Regions from separate parts of the Homo sapiens genome. Here region 1 is linked to region 2. Evidence: fine-mapped expression QTL. A gene starts in region 2. The other region holds a variant in brackets. All regions are shown on one strand. Distances are from middle to middle.

What was found.
Region 1: its variant is fine-mapped to the expression of GRM8 in lung (TOPMed, PIP 0.92).

What each region holds. Positions count from the first base shown.
Region 1 is chr7:126,883,625-126,894,483 of GRCh38, forward strand. All of the region lies in intron 6 of GRM8 (glutamate metabotropic receptor 8), which reads right to left. Among named protein-coding and RNA genes, the nearest start is that of MIR592, 170 kb to the right of the region's middle. The variant T/G (reference allele first, on the strand shown) is at 5,717.
Region 2 is chr7:127,246,605-127,257,463 of GRCh38, forward strand. It overlaps GRM8 (glutamate metabotropic receptor 8), which reads right to left and starts at 6,337. Exons shown (of 11, transcript NM_000845.3): 1 at 6,193-6,337. RefSeq lists an enhancer at 7,175-7,424 and a silencer at 7,545-7,604.

The sequences.
Region 1 (10,859 bases), 360 kb before region 2:
GTTCTCATGAGACTGCATTTCAGATGGATTGGAAGCAACCTAATATGTATTCAAAAACCAGCACCAGATGAAAGGACTCAGCCAGAATCATGCAAAGCAGAAGAATCAAATTCACAGAGACAGACTAAACTTTTTAACTAAGACTATCATGCAATTATATTGTTGGTATATCCCATGTCTATTGGTTGTATATGTATCCAAAAATTAGGTTTAGAGATGGATGATACACAGATTAGATAAACTGATAATCAATGAAGAAATGGAAAAATAGACATTTTTAAGCACATTTTCTGAAATATCAGATGTATAAAATATGTGTATTCATGAAAGAAATAAAATTAGACAGGAGACAAAACAGATAATTTAGCAAGAAGTTATTAAGGGTGAATAATAGTATTCAGATCTATCTGTCATAAGGCCCTACAAATACTAAAATTAGCTGTGATTTTTTTCTATTAGTTCCCTAGGATTCTGCTAAAATCAGCATCCTCATGAGCACTGGTTAACACTATGGTGTAAATCATTTGCTGATGCCATAAATTAAAAACAAAACAAAAAACTATATTCAAAGTAACTGAGCTATAGGAACATCTCCTTAAAAGATGGAGGCATTAAGAGCATTTTCCACAACCGAGAACTAAATGTCATTCACCTGTGAATTAAAAAAAGGAAATCACGGGGGAAAAATGAGCAGCCAGATCAATTGCATAAACCTTTGTCAAAGATAGAAATGTTTATATGGGAGTTCTGTGGCTAAACAAAATGCAAACAGCCACATATTTTTTCAACCAACAAATGGATATCAGTAGCTTAAATAAACTCTTTCATCTTTTTATTTTTTTCATCCTTATCCTTGCTTTAAAAAAATGGAACACAGTATTTGTTGAAGATTTTATGCACATATTGCATCATAGCCCAATTTCTCAAACTCAAAGTCAATTTAGCAAATAGAAATGATAGCAGAAAAAACATATAATGTCCTGTTGGGAAGAACTGTCTTTCATTGTAGTGTGAACTTAATGACTGCATCACCTACCTTGAAGTATTTTTTAGGTCTAGTTATTCATTTAACAAAGGATTATCCAGTGCCTTCTATGTGACAGGCACAGTGGCCACAAAGATAAGCAAAAAGATATGCTCCTTATCTTCATGGAGCTTACAATTTAATAAGAGATAAATATGCATCAAACAACCCCACAAATAAATGTACAACTGTAACTGTAATAAAAGCTAAAATGAGTATGGTGCACTATGGGCATACAGTAGGGAGATCTGACCTAATCAGAGAGTTAAGACAAGTTAGGGGCCTTGTATCCTATTCCTGGAATCTTGCTCATCAGCAAACAGCTGAAGGAAGTATTTGTAAGGATAGTATATCCCTCTGTACATCCCAAAGTCCTGTCCTGTGCACAGCCACTGACTACATACCTCTGCATCCAAAGCAGACTCAGCTTTCAGCTGGCCTTGCTGAGAGTGAGCCCAGCATATCTTGGAAAATGAATTCACCACACTCTGGCACAAACCCCATATCATCCAACAGCTTCTTCAACCAGAGCAGCTCAGTCTTGGTCCTTATCCATGAATGATGGTTGCAGAACCACGCTGGCTTTACAGGGATCTGGGTAGGATCCATTGCCCCCACCCTGAGTGTATTCATAGTGATGTGCTATATGGTTTAGAAGCCTTGGTAAATAAGTCAAGGTAGAACTGTCTCAACCCAGAACTTTCTTCAGGTAAGAAGTATGCTTCCAACAGAAGTTCCTAACAGGAAGCAGCTATCACCATCAAAGGGGAGTACTGAAATCATTCCAAGACTAACCCCCACAGTCTACTCTTTTCTTCCCTATCATCTGTGCCCCTAAAGCAGTCAGGAGAGTTCCCTAGCCAGACCTAACTCAGTACTTAAATATCTTTGATAGGCCTGGGAAACAGAACACAGGAAGAAAAGTCGTGGCTTTTCACCCCAGCAGTGGAATCTATTCTTGTTTTTTGTAGCATGAGATGTTTACACCTAAGGAACAGAAAGTGAACTTAAAATGTCTTTAATTAAGAAATTAGGTTTAAATGATTCCATATAACAAATCTGATTTAATTTTAAATTTTTGAATACATTTACTCATTCAAGAATGGTTTCAAACCCTCCAGGGGTGAGATAAATGGCAATTCTAGCTATCTTCTACCTTCAAATATAACTTTCCTGAAATAAAAACAGGAAATCCAATTTGTAATCACAATAAAGTTTCTTATCTAAATCCAAAGGCCAGTTTTTTTCCCCTTGGAAACATAAGCGCCTGAAGCAGGGGCTGCATTTTGATATTCTTTGTGGCACTTGGCACAGTATAATTTCTATGAAGGTGCCTTGTAAGTAGCCTGGGGTGATTATGGTGGTGTAATTTTCATCACAACCACAGATAACCCAGGTAACTGTGCAGGTACAATGACGTTCAGCTTAAGTGGCTTTGTTCCAAACAAGGGCCTCTATTGTAAAAACAAAGCAGGTGTTAAAACATAGAGATATTGAAGATAGGGGTCATTTTACATACTAACATGCACTGAAAAGTAAATCTGAGCTTCCCCACATTATTGCCAGGAATTACGGTATACTTAAGATGAATCCATTAAGTACACAACTGGACAAATGATGAAATTTCATGTTAGCAAAATTCCTGACATATTTCACACCTCTTACTCTATTAAATTACACTTTTTTAACAAAGAAAAGCTTTCCTACTGCTACACATTTTCAATTTTTTCTCCTATGTATTTCATATTAAAATTTCAAAATAATTTGATCAGAGATCTAGTGCACAAAGGTGCCTAAGTGAACAATAATCACCAAAAACACTTGCAATGGCTGCAGTAGTGGGATTCCCATCAGTGATGTCAACAGTGATGCCAAGAAGACAAAAGAAGAGGGAAGGAGCTAATAACAAAATCCATAGAAAACAGGCTTCATTAATTTCTGAACAGGCTACATAAATCCATTAATGCCTACAGATTAATAACATGGTCATATAAATGAAGTTACTGCCTACGTGTTTTCTGAAAAACATCATTGCTAATTCATCTTATACTGTCAAAATTTCTTTATCCAAAATGTATATATTTTTGAGTAATATCTTCTCAAGAAAGTAATACTTTCTTGTAATACTCAAGAAATACCCTCAATTCCCAAGTACTACAGTTTATATGTGACCAGTTTTTGATATAATAAAATATATAAAATGTAAAGTTAAACCTTAGATGTCTATCTAGTGCTTATTCTGAGTGGCAATGAAATAATGTAATAGAACACAGCAAAAGGCCGAAAGAAGGAAGAGCTGTATTTTGGGAGTGCAGAGAAGTATTACTTCAGAAATGTGTCCAGACAAAGAAAACTCATTCAAGGGACGTGGATAAGGGCCAGGTGGACTAAGGAAGAGGTAATCTATCTGGGTGTCTCAAAAAGGAAGTTTTCATTCTGGAATCTGAAAAGAGGATGAATGCACCTGAAAATCAAACCAGCAGAGAGTGTTTCAAGAAGTAGAGTTAGAGAGAAAGAATCAACTAGAGATAGGTACATCAGACATAGGAAAGGAAACGTGTAGCTAACTGATAGCTTCCATAAAGACAAATTGAATAATAAGACTGTGTATGGTTTACAAATGCAGGCAGTATTTTTCTCGAGGTGTCTTTGTAGTGAATCTACTATCTTTATATTTGCCATGTTAAAGATACTACTGAGCTGCCCAGAGAGCAGTCAAGGAAAAAGATTTTTGGCCACAGGGCTGTGGTCCTTGAGAAATCCTGGAGTTCCTGTGTGCTTAGGAAGTTATCAGAAACAGAACATGTTGTGAGTGTCTGTGCTTGAAGTGAAAGAAGGGAGATATTGAGAACAGCAATGAGTTTGCCCCTTTTTGACAAATCTTACTCTCTGCTTATTTATATCAAATTATCATCATCATCACCCTTATCTCCAGTGATTACCCAAGTCTCTTGTTCACACTCCTCCAAACTGTCTACATATACCTCCCCCTCGCAATACACACTGAAGTTATTAAGAATTGAAAGAACAAATTGTTTGCCCATCCTCATAATCATCTGTCCTAAAAGGTCATTTAAACATTTAATCAAACCTGCAGTTCTCCAGGGGAACGTGTGAGTCATGCCGTTCATCCCACACACTCAAGCGGGGCTTTGTGTCAGTCTTAGGAATGATGCAGACTGGTCCCACAAAGAAATCAGTCACAGGGACATTTTCTGTCATTAGGCAGAGAACAAAAAGCTAACAGTTTCCTGGACTCTACTGAAATAAACTTTTGCACCAATTAATGAAACCCCTATGGAAAGCATCATGCCAGAATCCAAGGAGGCTGTCCATGTATTGACATGCAAACTAACACTCCTGCAAAAGAGGGGGTAGGTGAGCATCCTAAGTCAATATGAATTATTTGTTTTTCTGCTACTTTGGATCAGCTATACCACTGCTCCCTTTCACAGGTACAAATACACAAAAGAGGGCTTCTGTTTCATAAAAGTGGCTCTGACAAATGACACTCCTCAGGGTGCTGAACCCAACACTGGCAGCCAGCCCATTCTGTGCCCTCAGCCTGCCAGTACTTTTCACTTCCAAAGCTATCAGCCTGCTTCAGACCTATGCCTTCACTCTGACTAGGGACAAAGAAAAGATCACAGTGGAAATCCTTCTGCGTGCTGCTAATAAGCCTATTTAGAGTCAATGAGAAAGCCTCATTTTGCACCACCAATAAAGGCCTTCAAGAGTACTACTGAATCAGAGAAACCGAAATGTTTCTATGTACTCCCTGTCCTCATTTTACATCAGCCTGACAGGTGACACTCAGCAAAATATCGAACAGGATGACCTCCAAGTTTCCTTCCTTCTCTAATGTCCTCTGGTTCTCTGTTGGCCAGTAGGATTTAAATTTTATTTAAATTATCTCATATTCTGATGGATTCTTGAGCCCCTTTTCAGTTTTAGATAATCTCCCTGTGGTTTGCTGAATTGGCATATCTGGAGTCTAGGATCTCTGTTGGCAAAGAACTGAATATTGCTCCCATCCAACAGCTTAGCTAGCACTGTCTATTTTCTTTCTGAAAGAGATCTGGGTAGGAGACAGGTGCAGAGCATCTTTCCACCTCCCACAGAAGGGCTAGGGAAAGCTTTGTTGTGCATGAACCATGAACAAAAGGATAATTCAAACCAGCAATAATGTCCTTAATAAAAAATAATAATCATTTTCCCAAATGAAAATCTACAATTCTAACCATTTGATCACAGTGATGTAAGCAAACAAGCCTGCAGCTAAAGGTTATATATGGGTCAAAGATTTAATGGAAAGTGATACATGGGTGGAATGACATCACCTATTTGTCAGAATACTAACTCCTCTACCATATCCTATGTCGGCCCACCGTTGGGGTGTAAGGGAAAGGTGCATAAAGAGATAAGTACCCATTTCTAAACATAATGCAAGTTTGACATTTAAGCTCAATAGTTTAGCTATAGAGCGTTTTGGTAACATAAAAAGAAACCAGAGCAATTTGAGTGACCTTTGTGAAAGACAGGCATAAAGGTTGCAACCACCACTCTCACCACCAAAATCTAAAAATGCGGAAAATAAGCATTTATCAAAATTTCTCAGAGACTATGTTACCCACCCAAGATTCCACAGCTAGGATGCAGTGTTTGAGTGTCTACTAACAAGGCTGGGAATTA[T/G]TAAACACAGAAAGCATAACAGAAACACTTAGTTCCTCTTGGGTCTTATGGTCCAGTTGATAAAACTTCCAGCACTTTGAACAGATTTTCACTTACTGCAAAGAAAAATGCTTAGCTGAATTATTGTCTATCTGGGTTGCAAGTAGCACACCCCCACCATCTGTAAAATAATATTTTGGTAGACTAGAGGGCATGTTGTTAAAGGAACCCAAAGGAGAATTGTTTTGATAAAGTTAGGGACAATCTCTAATATGTGTGTTTTATAATTCTGCAACTTATGTAGAAATATATCTGAATGAAATGTTGTTGAAAAGCTGTATATCATTTTAATTTTAATAAATCAAATCACATTTTATATTCACTGACTGAGAAGCTGGTACTTAGGAAACCTGTGAGAAATTAGTTTAATAATTTGTGTGTATTGCAAATATTGACCTTCTGACTTAATTCAGAATTTCTATATAAAAACAAAAATTTAATTCTTTAATATCTTAAAATGAGGGATGCTCATGCCATGTTAAATAAATCATTTCCACTTATATTTAATACATTGTATTAGTTAGGATGCTTGCAGCTGCAAATGATAGAAAATCCGATCCAAAATGGCTTTAAAAATTGTTGTTCTATAGGTCTATCACCCTAGACTTCTGCTGTCCAATATGATAGTCATTAGCCACATTTAAATGTAAAGAAATCAAAGTTACATTTACATTTAAGTGTAAAGTAATTAAAGTTAAATACAATTTGAAATTCTATTTTTTCAGTTTGCACTAGCCATATTCCATCAAGTGACCAATAGCCACATGTCACTAATGGCTGCTCTATTAAACAATGCAGATATGGAAAAACCTTCTTCACCTCAGAAAGTTCTATTAGATAGTGCTGGCTTCAAAGAAAAGGAAGTTGTTAAATCAGTAAGCAACAGTATCTGTTATATTCCCTATGTAGCAGGCAATAATCTTTATGCATATTATTTCCTTTAACTTCCCAACCGCTCTATGAGGCAAGTATTATTTTAATGTATTAGTCTGGACTCTAGGTTGCTAGCTAAAAATGGGAAAACATAATTAGGAGAACCTTGAACTATCTCACATATCTACAAGAAAAGCCTGGTTAAGGTCCTCATCACCATCAGAACTCTTTCCATCTGTCACCTTTATTCTGTTGCACAAGTCAATATTATTCTTCCAGGTCAGCTTCCCCCTTGTGGTGGAAACTTCCCAGCCTCATATCTCACAGCCTCAAACTACTGCCTCCCACCCCCTGAGAGAGAATAATCTTCCTCCTTTCACTCCCATTTTAGATATTACTCGGAAGGACTCTGATAATTTAGCTTTAGTGAAGAGCTCAGTGTTAAATCAATCAGTTGTGGCTGAAGAGACACAAAGGAGAGGATCAGGGTTGTAGAATAGAGACATGGCCAGAGGGGCTCCACTTATGGACAGTGAAAACAATTTCTACAGAAACTGGAATGGCAGGGTCCTCTCCTTCAACATATTTCTGAGTCCTCAAGGCTCTATCTCAGGCCCTCTGCAATTTCCACTCCACATACTTTCTGGATCTGTCTCACCAAGTCCCATTAATATACTAGTGAGGCCCCAATTCTCTGTCTCAGCAAGACCTTGTATTCTTAGCTTCAGACTCACATAACCAAGTAACCCTTCCCAGACATCTGCAGCTCTATATCTCATAGGATCCTTAAACTCAGTATCTCCCACAAAATTCATCATCCTCCTTCCCCCTCTTCCCCAATCATTCATTATATCAGGAATGCTCTTTCAATCAATGACCGAATTTCCCATTCCAAGAATCAAGGCATCATCCATGATTTGTCCTCTCCTTTAACATGCAATTAATTGCCAAGCCCTACATATATCCCTAAAATGTCTTTTTATTAATATATCCATCTACTTCTGTCCATTCCTAGTACAGTGCAACCATCATAGGCTGGGCCACTATCATTTCTGGAAAATTACTGTAGTATCTCATGGGTCTCCCTTCCTCCAGTGTTATGCCTCACCAATACATTATCCATACTACAGCCAGAATAATCTTTCTAAGATGGTGATTCTATTATTCTGCTTAAAACCTTCTGGTGCCCATTCATTGACTTTCAAAACATTTTTCAACTGCCTCTTGAGGCATATAAAGTGTTATATGATCTGTCCCTTGCCTAGGTCTCTATCCTTACTCTCTTCCTATCCCCCTCTCCTAGTCTCTACAACTGCCATCCTTTCTCTTGCCCACTGGTCTTTGTGCCACCCTCTGGTTAAAATAATAATACTACTGATAATCTCTTTTTCTTAATTCTGCTCATATTTTAGTCTCAACTTCAATGACACCAATCTTCTCCCCTAGGCTACATCAGTTCTCCCTGCTATATGCTGGCTATTCGCTTAACACATTGCATTGCAGGAACTGGGCTAAATTATTCACCTTCCCAATTAGACTGTAAGCCCCATGAGGACAATAACCATTTTTGTTTTGCTCACGAACATGTCCTTGACATCTAATAGCTAGTGCTTGAAAAAGAGCAGAAAATAAGCTGAATTTAATTCTTTCATTTAATCCACAAATATTTTAAGGAAGCCTATTTGTGCCAGATGCCACCCAAGGCACTGAGATTCAGCTGTGAATGAAACAAAATCTCTTCCTATATGAAGCTCATGTTCTTGCAGGGTAAAAAAAAAAAAAAAAAAAAAACCCTAATAAACTAATAATTTTTTAGAAAATGCTTAAATTGTATAAATAAATATAGTTTTAATATTTGTATAACTTTTTACATTTTTATTTTTACTTTTTAAATTTTATTATTATTATACTTTAAGTTTCAGGGTACATGTGCACAATGTGCAGGTTATTTACATATGTATACATGTGCCATGCTGGTGTGCTGCACCCATTAACTCGTCATTTAGCATTAGGTATATCTCCTAATGCTATCCCTCCCCAAACCCCACAACGGTCCCCAGAGTGTGATGTTCCCCTTCCTGTGTCCATGTGTTCTCATTGTTCAATTCCCACCTATGAGTGAGAACACGCGGTGTTTGGTTTTTTGTTCCTGCAATAGTTTACTGAGAATGATGATTTCCAATTTCATCCATGTCCCTACAAAGGACATGAACTCATCATTTTTTATGGCTGCATAGTATTCCATGGTGTATATGTGCCACATTTTCTTAATCCAGTCTATCATTGTTGGACATTTGGGTTGGTTCCAAGTCTTTGCTATTGTGAATAGTGCCTCAATAAACATACATGTGCGTGTGTCTTTACAGCAGCATGATTTATAGTCCTTTGGGTATATACCCAGTAATGGGTTGGCTGGGTCAAATGGTATTTCTAGTTCTAGATCCCTGAGGAATCACCACACTGACTTCCACAATGGTTGAAGTAGTTTACAGTCCCACCAACAGTGTAAAAGTGTTCCTATTTCTCCACATCCTCTCCAGCACCTGTTGTTTCCTGACTTTTTAATGACTGCCATTCTAACTGGTGTGAGATGTTATCTCATTGTGGTTTTGATTTGCATTTCTCTGATGGCCAGTGATGGTGAGCATTTTTTCATGTGTTTTTTGGCTGCATAAATGTCTTCTTTTGAGAAGTGTCTGTTCAAACAAATTTACAAGAAAAAAACAACCCCATCAAAAGTGGGCAAAGGACATGAACTTTTTACATTTTTAAAATTGTATAAATGAAACCTTTTTAAATGACATTTTCCATTATGTACTCCAAGTTGTCTTTTCATTATTCTGTTACCTCATTAGAGGTAGTATGGAAATAAAGTGCTTTCCCCTCAAATAGTATAAATGTAATTTTATTTTTTTAGAAAAACAAAACACTATGGAGTCATGGCATTTATAATGAAGTAATCAAATATTCCAATTAAATATTCAGGTAACCAAATATTCCAGTTAAATATTCAGGTAACCAAATACTCCAATAAAATTTGACTGATTTTATAGGACACAGGACTATATGTGTTTCTAGAATCATATTCCCATTTAAATTAGCATCGCAGTCAGGAATTTAAAGACAAACTATCAGAATAGTACATTTTCTTCTTAAATTACAGTAAAAGCCCTTTTATAACTATGTTGAGCTTTTCCTTTTATTAAAAAATATCATTCCAACAATTAAAATATTTATCAAATGCATGCCAAGCTAGGCACCATGCATCATATCTACATCACTGTAATGAAGAACAGGAGGACTATCTGGCCATACATTATAGACCAATTAATTAACTTAACAGATATATAATGCTAAGCATATGCTAAGTCCTGAGGATACAGACCCTGCTTACTAGCAACTTACAAACTATTGTCTGACTATTATCTTCCTCACAAAATATAAGCTCCTTGAGGGCAGATGTTTAGCACAATATAGAGTTTAACAAATGTCATAAGTAATAAAAAAAAATCAAGACTCTTCGGTAGTCTTGATTTCTCAATTAGCCTTAGTAAGCTCTAATCACACTTAGTCTTAATTTCTCAATTAGCCTTAGTAAGCTCTAATCACACTTTATGTCTCCTTTGCCCTACTGTATCCAATCCTTTGTTCAGCTAGTTCTTTTGTTTAGCTATGTTCCTAAGAAGTTGTGGTAATTCTCTTGTATTTCAGCAAATCATATCTATGAGACTCTCTCAAATCCTCTGAGTTAAAAAGAATCCCAAGATAAAACATAGAGAAGAAATATTATTTTTGAAATATAGTCTCCTGTATTTATCTGCTTTGTATCACTTTTAGAAAAGAGGAGAAATCAAGTTTTCCTGATATTGAATCATCTATACATTGTTCCTTTTTAAAAGTTTGTTTGGTTTTAATGAATTGGTTCCCTCAACTGAAGTTTAATAGCCATTTAAAGGAAGACAATTTATCCTAATGTTTCTGTATTTTTCTAAACTTTCTCATCCTCTCTGGCCCAAGCCTTACCATAGTTTTTCAAATAATTGGTGATCAAAAATGCTGAACTGTCACCTGTTTGCCTATATACTCTTTTCCATTTGTGAGTTCTTCAGTGTAATATTCCAGAGATTGTGTTTATTCAGATACATTCATCTTCCAATCAATCAAGATAATGCCAGCTTCTGTTGTGGGTTTTGCAGAAAGGATTTCCTAGACTCCTGAATTCATTTTTTCT
Region 2 (10,859 bases):
TTACAGGGCACATCATACATCATTGGGCCCTCCATGGGCAGTCCCCTGGCCTAAGACTCCTGGAAGCAGGCACCCTGGCTGGACCCCGAGCCTGTATCCCCCTAAATGTGCTCTGTTTCCTAAAAGGCCAGAAGGATACCTCCTCACTGGCCAGAGCCCAGAATTCTGCTTTATTTTCTACACACCTTCTCTGTACCAGTGTCAAGTATCTAACACAGTATCTCCATAAATTTTCATACACCAGGCATTAGCTCTTGTATAAATGAGAAAAGAAGGCTCAGAGGGATTGAATATGGCCCCAACCCCTGAGAGCGTGAGCTGATAAGTGGCAGTGCCACCAAAGTCATCTGTCCCAGAAGGTGGGTCCTGTCCTTGGAGAAAGACCCCAGTGCTGCAGGGACTCACTGTGGCAGCACAAGGAAAGGGAATGGCCCTGCCCCTCCACTGCAATCTTTCAGAAAGGTGCACATCTTCAATGCTTAGCTCTGGAAGAACACTAACATATTAATTAGGAAGGGACAATCTGGGGGCATTTCCAGGGAGGTGATTTCTGAATCTCTCAAAGGGCTGAGAAGATCCAATGCGGTTTGTCCAAACACTTCTGCTCCAAATGAGGTCTCCTGGCCAGGTTGATGTCAAGGTGATGTCAGGTGGAACACACCCACCAACGCATGCAGGGTCTCTCTGGGTCTGCCATCACATCTTCCTTGGGCATTTAGCAGGTATGATTAAAATATGATAGGGTAAAATCCTCACTGAGGAATACCATTATCCAAGAATTGTAATTTTTTTCTCATAAAAAGGCCAAAGCAGCATTCCTATGCTGCATTCCATTCAGCTCTTTAACAAAAAGGTTAAGCTGAATATTCTCATCAATTCATATGACTGCTCACACTTGCAGCTCTTTTGGTTGTTTTGAAAATGCATCGTATTTCTGTATCATCTCCCATGCTGCAATATGTGTGCATGTCTATGGATTCTTGGTGGGGCAGAGTGAGGATGGGGCAGACAGAGCTCTCCCTTGGCAACAGACGCTTGGAATCGGATCTTTGTCTGACAGTCACTGGCTGGTAACACTGAACATGTCCCCTCACCCCTATGTGCTTCCATTTCCTCATCTGTGAAACGAGTGAGATGGACCACGTGATCTCTAAGGTGTCTTCCAGCTTCCTATTCTGAGATTCTATTACTTAATAATAAGGGAATATGAGATTATGCTCAAACATCAGAGCAAGGCTTTGCCAACTGAACACAATAACTGATTTTGTTTGCAAGTTGAGTGACTTTTTTTCATCAGTGAGAGGATTGTGAAAGCTCTTCTACACAAGCCAGCCTCATATTTTAAAAAATCTGATACAGGAGAAGCTCGACTTACTAAACAGATAAATTGGAAAGTAATTATTTGCATTACAGAAGAATTCACCACAGGTTTCCTTTAAATAGCTAAATCCCAGGCATTTAAAAAAAAATCTGATTTAGGAGAATTCAATTTGTGCCTTTATTTTTCCAATAACACAGCTATTGCACAAAAAGACCATATTTAAAGTAATGAGAAGCTACTTTTTATAATATGTATCAGATAAGAAGAGAGAAAGTGGGTGACATCAACACTTACTGATTGCCTGCAGTGTGCCTGGAGCTGCAGACACATTATTTCATTTCCCTCTAAAATACAACTATGAGGATGGTATCACAGCCTCCATTCAGGATCTAAGGAACCTGAAAACAGAAAGATTATATGACTGTGTCTAAAGTCTCAGGCGAGAATTCAAATGCAGGACTGCCATTATGTTCCTTCCCTTACTCCATGCCCCATGGGGGCAGGAGGCCATGCTGGATCTCAAACTAACCCTGATTTGATAATGAGGACTGGGAGTGAGATGTTCTAGAGTCCTAGGAGACACTGATTCTAGTCTTACTTCCCCCAGTACTCACTGTATAGCACTGGGCAAGTCACTTAACCAGATCTCAGTTTCTTGGTTTCTAAAATGGGGAATGATTTTCCCCCATCTCCCAGTTTGTGAAATCCAACAATATAATGTGTGTCAAAGTACTTTATAAACTGCCAAGTGCTATAAGAATGCACAGGGATACTATTAGTCTAACAATCTGTCCTAGAACTAAAATATGTTACTGGTGTATTGTACTTAGAAGATCTAAGAAAACCACTTTCTCATCACGCTTGGGTCTAGTCAGACCTTAACAACGGTCACAGGTCCAAAAAAAGTCAACCCTGGCAAGCCTATATGGAGAGCACAGAGCTTGAAGGAAAACTGGAAAGGACGCAAGAAGAAGTCAATGGAACTACCATGCCTGACCTGGAAAACTAAAGGTCATGGACACTGAGCATCTAAATCGCTATTCTGAAGAAAGTGGTGACAAGATAATCTCCTGTTGTGAAAACAAGACAACCGGAAACCTTCCTAAGTTGTAGGTACAATATAATGCTTCTACCGCTGGGTCATGACCACTGGAAAAGTCAGCCAATAAATAGCCAGCAGCTTTCTAGCTTTAGGCATAACCCTGCCTGGAAAAGTATGAAATTGGCAACACATGTGTCCAACAATCTATACTCCTCTGAGGGCTCTCCTAGATATTCCTACTTCTGTTCACCTCCTGCCCTGCCCTGCCCTGCGCTGACCTCCCCAGAACTAGGTCTCTTCCTTCCCTCAGTGCCTTTGTTCTTTCATTACCTTGGCCCTCCCCAGGGAGTGAGTGGATTCATTAGCAGGTATCAAAGCCTGAAGATGCATTACTGTCATCCCCAAATGGAACATCTGCATTCTCAAAATGATTCCTAGGAGAGCCATAATTTATTTACCAAAGAAATATCACCATTAATAATGGTTAAGGCTAGCAATGCAACAAGCCAGAGCAGAGAGCTAGGAGTCAGGAGCGTCTCAACAGTACCTCTCAAATCATTCCAACAGCATTGCCCACCACTGAGAAAGGGTGTCCTGGGATGAGACAATATTATGCTCAGCGTCCCTCCCAGTGAGTGGGTGAGTTTGTCGCAATTTGTCAAATTACCAAGTAGAAATGAAAATCAAAGAAAAAAGAGAGAAAGCCCAAATCTAAATTCCAATTCCTAGCAGAAAGAAAACCCTCTCTTGAAATGGAAACAATAAGCCAGCCAACTCTCAGCTCATAGCCTCTCCTGGGAACAACATGAAGTGGCCGTCCCTATTGAATGAACCACATTTGTGAGTCTGGGGATGCCCAGTCAGAGTCTATCAAGAAAACAGCAAGTTTCCTGAACCTCCGCAAGCCAGCCAACTTGACAGACATGGAGATGTGGCCAGGTCTTGGCTGTGGGTCCAGGAAGAGAGAAATTCAAGCAGCATCTTCTTTTAAGACACTGGGACAGAGCAACTCCACTCCCCCCAACTAAAGCAAGGTCATCTTTATGATGGGCATTCTAACTACCTGAGAAAGGTGGTAGGAAGGAAACTTGGAAGGAAAAAAACATGTGTGTAGTGTGCTGTACATCGTGCCCTGAAGACAATGGAACATTCATACACAAAGATTGGCACGCAATTGCCAATGTGAATGTCAGACGGGTTATTTGCTGCATAAATACCAATTAAACAAGCCCCGCAGCAGCTTCAACCTGCTCAGCCAACTTTGAAAAGAGCACATCTCTCCAGACCTCTAACTTTCTCCTGCACTCACTGGAGCTCAGCTCTTCCTTTTCTCTATTCCTTTTGGATGTAGATGTTTTTAGAATTATTCAAGCAGCCATAACTTTCGAACGGTGCATAACAGGGCAGAACTAGCTAGCACAATCCAAACAGAACAAATTGAGCCTAAGGAACAGTATACAGCTGTGTTCTCAGTATCTTCTTCTTTATTCCGGGTCAATTGTCTCCTACAAAGCCTCCCGTCATCTATTTCTCCCCACATCCCTTATTCAAAAGCAAGAATTCTCTATCTTAGACATGGTACAACCTGTAGTTGACTCTAAAATGGAAAAATTGCATTTTAAAAAACCTTGGTTCATTTTCCCTGACGGAGGAAGCTTTTCTTTTCAAAATTATCAAGCCACACGTTTTCAAGAACCAGAGAATGAATTGCACACAGCTGATTCTGCCTCCTACAGAGATCTTTCACGGTATTATTCACAAGCAAGTGACCAAGGTAAACTAAAGTGGTTTCTGTAGCCATTTGCAATTATTGACAAACAATTTCATAACGGAAAGTGGAAATTACAGGCAAGTGCAATAAGCTGTTTATCCACGATCTACCTGCTGGTGGCTCTTTTTCTCTATTTTTCTTTCAAGCAAAATACAAGCTACCATAGGAATGCTTTTCTCCCGTTCATGATTTTTCTTGTATCTCCACCACCAACCCTGTTTTCCAGTTCTGTCAGTTGGCAGGATTTGTATTCAATCGCGGTAGTAGCCCAGACTCTAGTGTATTCTTGGGTGTTCCAGAGACTCCCGCACCTTCAGGTTTGTGGGAAAGGATCCCCCAAATGGCAAATAAGGCACTCCCTCCCGGGGTGGGACTTGCTTAGGGGACTTAAGGGTTTCTGCAACCGGCGAGGGGGTCTGTTTTCACCCCCGCTATCTTGGGTGCGCAGACACTCTCTGACACCAGGCTTCACAGTTTGGGCCACGGGGGAAGTAATTCCCCAGGGAACCGCGGGGGTGCGGTTTTGCGCAACTGGGTGACTCGCGTGTCCCTCCGCATTTCATTTGCACCAAGGGAGCGCGTGTCAGACGAAGGGAATTTTTTTTTCTTTTTTGGTGATTCTGTTATTTTTTCACCAACTGTACGAAGCTCAAGGGATATCCGAGCTTTCTGGCTGGGCGGATGGGCTTCGCGCTTGGCATGGCTGAGCGGTCCATCTCTACCTCTCCGTTTCTATCTCTACCATAACAGCGACCACTCAGCCCGCCAGGAGCCCCTGTTTCCCAGCGCAGGTTCCTTTTTCTTCTCAGTTCCTTGGGCTGTTGAAGCCGGGTTCTGGGTAGATAGAGACTGGGGCCGTGGGGAGAGCGCCAGGCTGCTTTTGCCTTTCCCGCGCCCCGGGGCATTCCGGCGCGCTGGGGATGCAGCCTCCGCCCCCGCCGCACCTGGCCGCCCGAGCGCCCGCGCCCACGCCCCGCGCGGGGCCGCCCGAAACTGGGGCCGCGCCAGCCGCGGGAGCTACCGAGGAGCTGTTGGGGTGCGTTTGCCTTTGCTTTTTAAACAAGATCCCCGAGACCTTTTCTCCATCCCCCCAACCCCCAGCAGGACACGGAACTCCGGCGTTTCTCGAAAGCCACAAAAGAGGGGCACGGAAATCCCAAGCTCGCCGTGCTAACTCGGAGAACGCAAACTCGAGGCAGAGCGTGCGCCGTGCGGGGATGTGGGTGTCGAGGACCCCGAAGCGCCCGGCTTCCCCCGCGACCCCCATCCTCCCTAGATCCTGGTTAGACATCCATCCAGCCCACGCTCAGAGGGCGGGGGTTACCCCGACTCATCCCGGAAGCCGCTAACTTCAGAAATCCCTCCTGTTAGGTTCGCGAAACGAAGGTACCTCGTCATCTCGGCGGGGCAAGTCCGGATTCCACCAGGGCAGGTCCGGGAGGTCACCCAGGGCAGACGATCCGAGGCAGAGCGCTTTAAAATCCTGCCGCCGCACGCCCAGTCAGAGCGCCGAGCGCGCCTGCCCCCTTCCCGTCACCCTTCAGTCTCCCATTCGCCGACTAAACTTTTGGGGGATCACATCTCCAAGCCTTGGGAGTTCCGGGTAAAGTCTCCCTCTTTTCTGAACCTCTTTACTGTAATGTAATCATGGGCAGACAAGAGGGGTGGCTGCCTTGTTCTTTGCAACGTAAAATCAACAGACACCCAATCAAGCTCCAATGCCCGGCCAGCCCCTCGCCCCCTGGTGCCCACTCTCCTTCTCCCCCCATTCCCGTCACCTCCGCCCGCTATTTCTCTCACAGACTACGGACATGCAGGGCCATCTACTTGTGCTCAGGAAAAACAAATCACTAGAGTGATATGAGAAGGAATGGTGCACCTGGCTGTCCGCTGAAAGGTTTTAGAGAAGAAAACGGAAAGGGGAATAAAACGGGGGGATTCTCCTTTTCCAACAAGCAGGGCGTTTTGGGGAAGTTTGGGGGCCAGGGGCTTTTTGTCCCGTGGTTCGGCACTTGCTTTCCTCGGAGCCGCTTTCTGCTGCCGGGCGGCGAGTCTTACCCTGCTCCCCGCAGAGGGCGCGGTGAGGAAGCCCGCCGGGGGCCCGCAGCTCCATGTCAGCGCCGCCGCCGCCGCCGCCGCCGCCGCGTGAGGCGAGCACAGCGGCCGCACTTGTGGCTGATCTCTGGGCTGAGGGGGCTGAGCTGGCCTAGCAGGCGCCAAGTCTCTTCCATGTGAATAACAAATACTCCCACCGGCGGCCGCGATTGGTCTGCGCCCGGCGCCTCCCGATCCTCCGCCCGCGGCCATTCACCCGGCGCGGCGCGGGGAGCCGCGGCCAGGATCGCGCCCGGGATCGCCAATCGCTTCGCGCCAACCAGTCACCTCGGGAAGCGGGAGGAGGAACCCCCGAGGGGCGGGAGCCTCTGGATTTCGGTGTCACCCAGCGGCCCTGGCGCGGGCAGGGAGGGGGACCCTCGGCCCGCGGATCCCCCTCCGCTCTTCAGCCTGAAGCGACGAGGAGACCAGAAATGTCAATAGTTCTGATTTTTAAAAATCATCCCCCCTTCCCCGCCCCCAAGAAAAAGGGGAGGACCCAACTACAGAGTGAGAGGGTGGGAAGAAGCGGGAGCGGTAGAAGAAGGAATATGGTTGTGGAGGAGCCCAGCGGCTCCGGCTGCCTGGCGAGCCCGGGACCGGCGCGGGGAGGCGCGACGCCCGCCCGAGCACAGCGGGCAGCACCCGCGAGCCCGGGTCCCCGGTGAACACAGCTCCAGAAAGCGTCACCGAGAATAACACATGGTAGATGACAAGTGTCCCGCCACATGCTTTCTTTTCGGGAATGCTTAAAGTAGAGCCGGCAAGCCGCGCGGTTCCCTTGCAAAGTTTGCCTGGCGCCGCGCGGCGGTTCCGCCATTTGTCCCGCCCCGCGGCTCTGGCGATTGTCTCCCCACTCCCCGCCCCCGAGGGTCTGAGGGACGCGTGCAACAGAGTCCCCAGGGCTCGAGGTACCACACAGCGCGGTCCGCTGCGGGCACTGCGCAGGAAGGGGCATGGGTGGCTACCGGGACGGTCATTTTATTGAGATGATTCAAGGAGCCGCAGACGCGGGGCAGGAAACTCCGGGGGAGCCGTGCTCGGGTTCTGCAGGGAAACCTCGGGATTCCCTTCGCATGCCGCATGCGGAAACCTGCCGGGCTCGACGTGCACAGTCCAGCGCTCCTCCCCACTAGTTACTGCCCAGGCCCCCCGATCCTGCACCCGCCGGAATGAGAGAAAGTAGCCCCTCGCCGCCCAGCTCCCGGGTAGCTGCTCCGGCCGGGCCTTGCGTTGGTGAGAAAGTTCCATCTAGAGGCGGCCGCGCGCAACTGCAGGCGGCGCCCTAGGCCCGGGCGAGCCAGGGAGAGCGGGGCGCGGGGGGAGAGGGGGCAGCCCAGGAGATAAGGAGGATGGAGAAGGACGGGAGAGACCCCGAAAAGGCAAGCTCTAGACCCCCGTTCGGCATCTCTACAATGAATTTTATCTTCCTAAGCATCATGAACTTATAAGCATTATGTCAGGAATCTTTCATTAATTCCTGTATATATCGCCTGTTCTGTTCGGGTTATTTTAATTTTCACATCAACTCTGTGAGATGGTCAAAATTATTAAGCCCACTCTACAGATGGAGGCAGAAGCCGAGGCTTAGAGACACGGCTGGAAAGTATTACAGCCAGAAATCAGTGTCTGGCTTCAAAACCCCATAGCACTTCCTCCCTGGTGGTGTTGGCTTTTCCCAAGGCTGGTTGTAATGTGCGAAGTTTCGATTGAGGAAACAGCTGTCTCTCTCCTAATTTCAAAAAAGGACCCTTGCCCTTTGTCACTTAGAAAAAATCTACAGGTTTTCAGCCCAGGGCACCTCTTCCCCTTTCGTTCCCTTCCTTCTCCCATCTCATGAGAGGCTCTTTGATTGTTGAATCATTATTTTATAGCTGCAACCACAAAAGAGGGAGGGAGGAGGATTTGGAGAGAGAAAATGGGCTGGGTCCTCTGTCTGAAAACCTTTCTGCATAGGGAACCTCAATTCCCTGTGAATGTCTAGTGCAGCTCTGAAGAGGGTGATCAGTGTCCGGTGCCACTTGGGACAAGGAAGGTGGGAAGAGGGAAGAGCTCCTAATTTATGCGGAGATGGGGCTGGGTGGACTTCCTGGTTGCACGCCTGCGTGTAAGACGCTTTAAAGATTTTCTTTTCTTAGGGACTGGAAGAGATCCCTCCTCCCCCAGAAGTGTAAAGTAAGTGCAGTGGCCTGATTTCTATAGCAGGAAGCCCACTCCACCCCAAACTCCAGACCCATGATCCCGGTCTGAGCAATGATATCACAGATAACGTAGAGGTATGAATAAGTCCGTTTTAGACCATTTACTACGTGTGCATTGATAAATTTGAGGGGAAAAGAGACACGACGGAGGGGAAAGGCAGAGGAGGCCCGCAAATACGTTGGGCATCGACAACTGCTGACCACACATCGTCTTCAGGGTAGGCTAGAGGCCAGCTGCAGGGCCAGTTGGGTCGTTGCCTGGCATGAGCCAAGAGGGCAGCAGCCTGGTGCTCTAGTGGGCCCATTTTAATAATAAGGGCAATAAGGCTGGCTGTGGCTTTGGAAGCCTAAGGAGGCCGAGTGAGCCTCTTGGGGAAGAAATGCCTAATGAGCTGCCTTTCTCCTTTCCCTATTGATCATTACCTGCAGAGAACTGATGTCTTACAGGCACATCGCTGCCCTTTTTGGTGCAGCCTTCTGCGAGAAAACTAGACTTGATCTCTCCTAAGGAAAGTGCAAGTCCGATGCTTCGTTTTGCATCATCTTTAACTCTTGATACTCAAAATAGAACCATCACTCAAATCCTACATGGAATCTGGTCAATAAGAAATAGAGCCCTTCTATATATTCTTCAGTGTTTCCAATGGCTTTATCTAGTAGCCCCTGAGCAAGTGACACAGCCTTCTGTACAGGTTATAATTTGCCCATGTACAGGTTATAATTCGCCCAGACTGATAGCAACACTGGGACACAGGAAGAAAGATTGTCTCCAGGAGGGACTGGTCCTTATCAGTAACATTCACAGGAAAAAGTTATTGGCTGTACAACCTCTATTCGTCAGGGCCAAACACCATGATGCTGCTTGCTCATTGCTGCAATCTGAGTCAGGGGAGAGTGTCTGAAGACCAGGCCGTCCAGACATGCAGCTTATTCTAGAGTCATCCACCTTGCCTCCCCTTGGGATCCCACCCTCTGCAATACACACTGTGTCTTTGGAAAGTGTCTGACCTCATCCTCCATCCCACCCCAAATGTTTATTCAAACCAAGTATATTTCCTAGTAGTTAATCCTCCAGGAAGATTTGCCTATAATCTTCTCATTTTCAGTTGATTTAAAATGTGAGAAACTGCCCATGTGTTAGAAAATGCAAAAAACAATGCCATATGTTTGGGGTCCATTTAACTCAAGCTGTGATACATATTCCACACATGGAGATTTATGCCACAATTCCTGCTTTGGAGTAATCATTAAGGCTGAGAACCTTTGCAGGCTACTCACCCAAGAGAAATATCGACAGCATGATGCTCCCACATGGAGCAAAGCTGACAGGGGAAAGTGGGAATGGGATTTGTTTCTTTTGGAAACGAAGACAATATTTTTCTTGCTAGACCATCTGCACATGGCAGTGAGTGTACCATGTGGGTTTTGCTCAGTTTATTAGACACTGGCTGCTAGAAGCAAGATCAGACATGTTAGACTGACAGTCAGATAGAGCCAATGAGATTCATGACACCAATGTCATGAATGAGTGTGTTCTGCACTTCCACAGTCAACTCATACCTGCATACAGGAGTCATGGGAAAGATTCTTTAAGAATTTCTGACATATGGTATATGGGCATCTCTACTGGCTTCATTTGGGTTCCCCTAGAAGCACAACCTGAAACAAGGATTCAAGAGCAGGTAGTTTAAGAGGTGAAGGGAATCCCAGTACTCAGGTGGGGAAGTGAGCCAATAAAGGGTGCATTATCAAGCTAGGTATCACTGTAGGCACCTGGTACCTAATCCCAGTGGGGAACTCTGGAAGTCAGTGTAAAACACACAGCAGAGAGTGGGTCCAACTGAGGGATGAGGGAGCTGGGGTATCTATACACCAACACTTATAAGATGTTAGTTAAGAACTGCTACCAGATGATGTTTATTCTCTGGCAATTCTAGCCTATCACATGGATGGCAAAGCAGCCTCCAGAGATCATGTAAAGACCTCTGGAAAAAAAATGCAGGGGCTGGCAGTTAGTAGGCAGGTGATATGTAATCAGGGGTCAAGGACAAGACAATAAGGGCAGGTCACAGTTAGCCTCTGCAACACCTGTTTAGGCAAACCTCATAAAACTTGTACTAATCAAGGCAGTGCCTCTCTATGTGTGTTGCAAGGACCACCTGCCTCAAAATCACAGGGGTGCTGATTGTAAGCACAGATTTCTGGGCCCTATCCCAGAGCTGTTTGAATCAGACTTGCTGGGATGGGGCCTGGGAAGCTGCCTGTTTTGCAAACGTTCCAGGAAATGACGTTCACTAAAATTTAAAATGTACTACATTCAGGAAATCATTCTCCTCACAGGCAGCCAGCAGGCAGCACATTTAAATATATGAATACTTGCTTGCAATGCCTAAGGAGGCAGACCTGAGAAATGAGGAGCCCAGGGAAGGG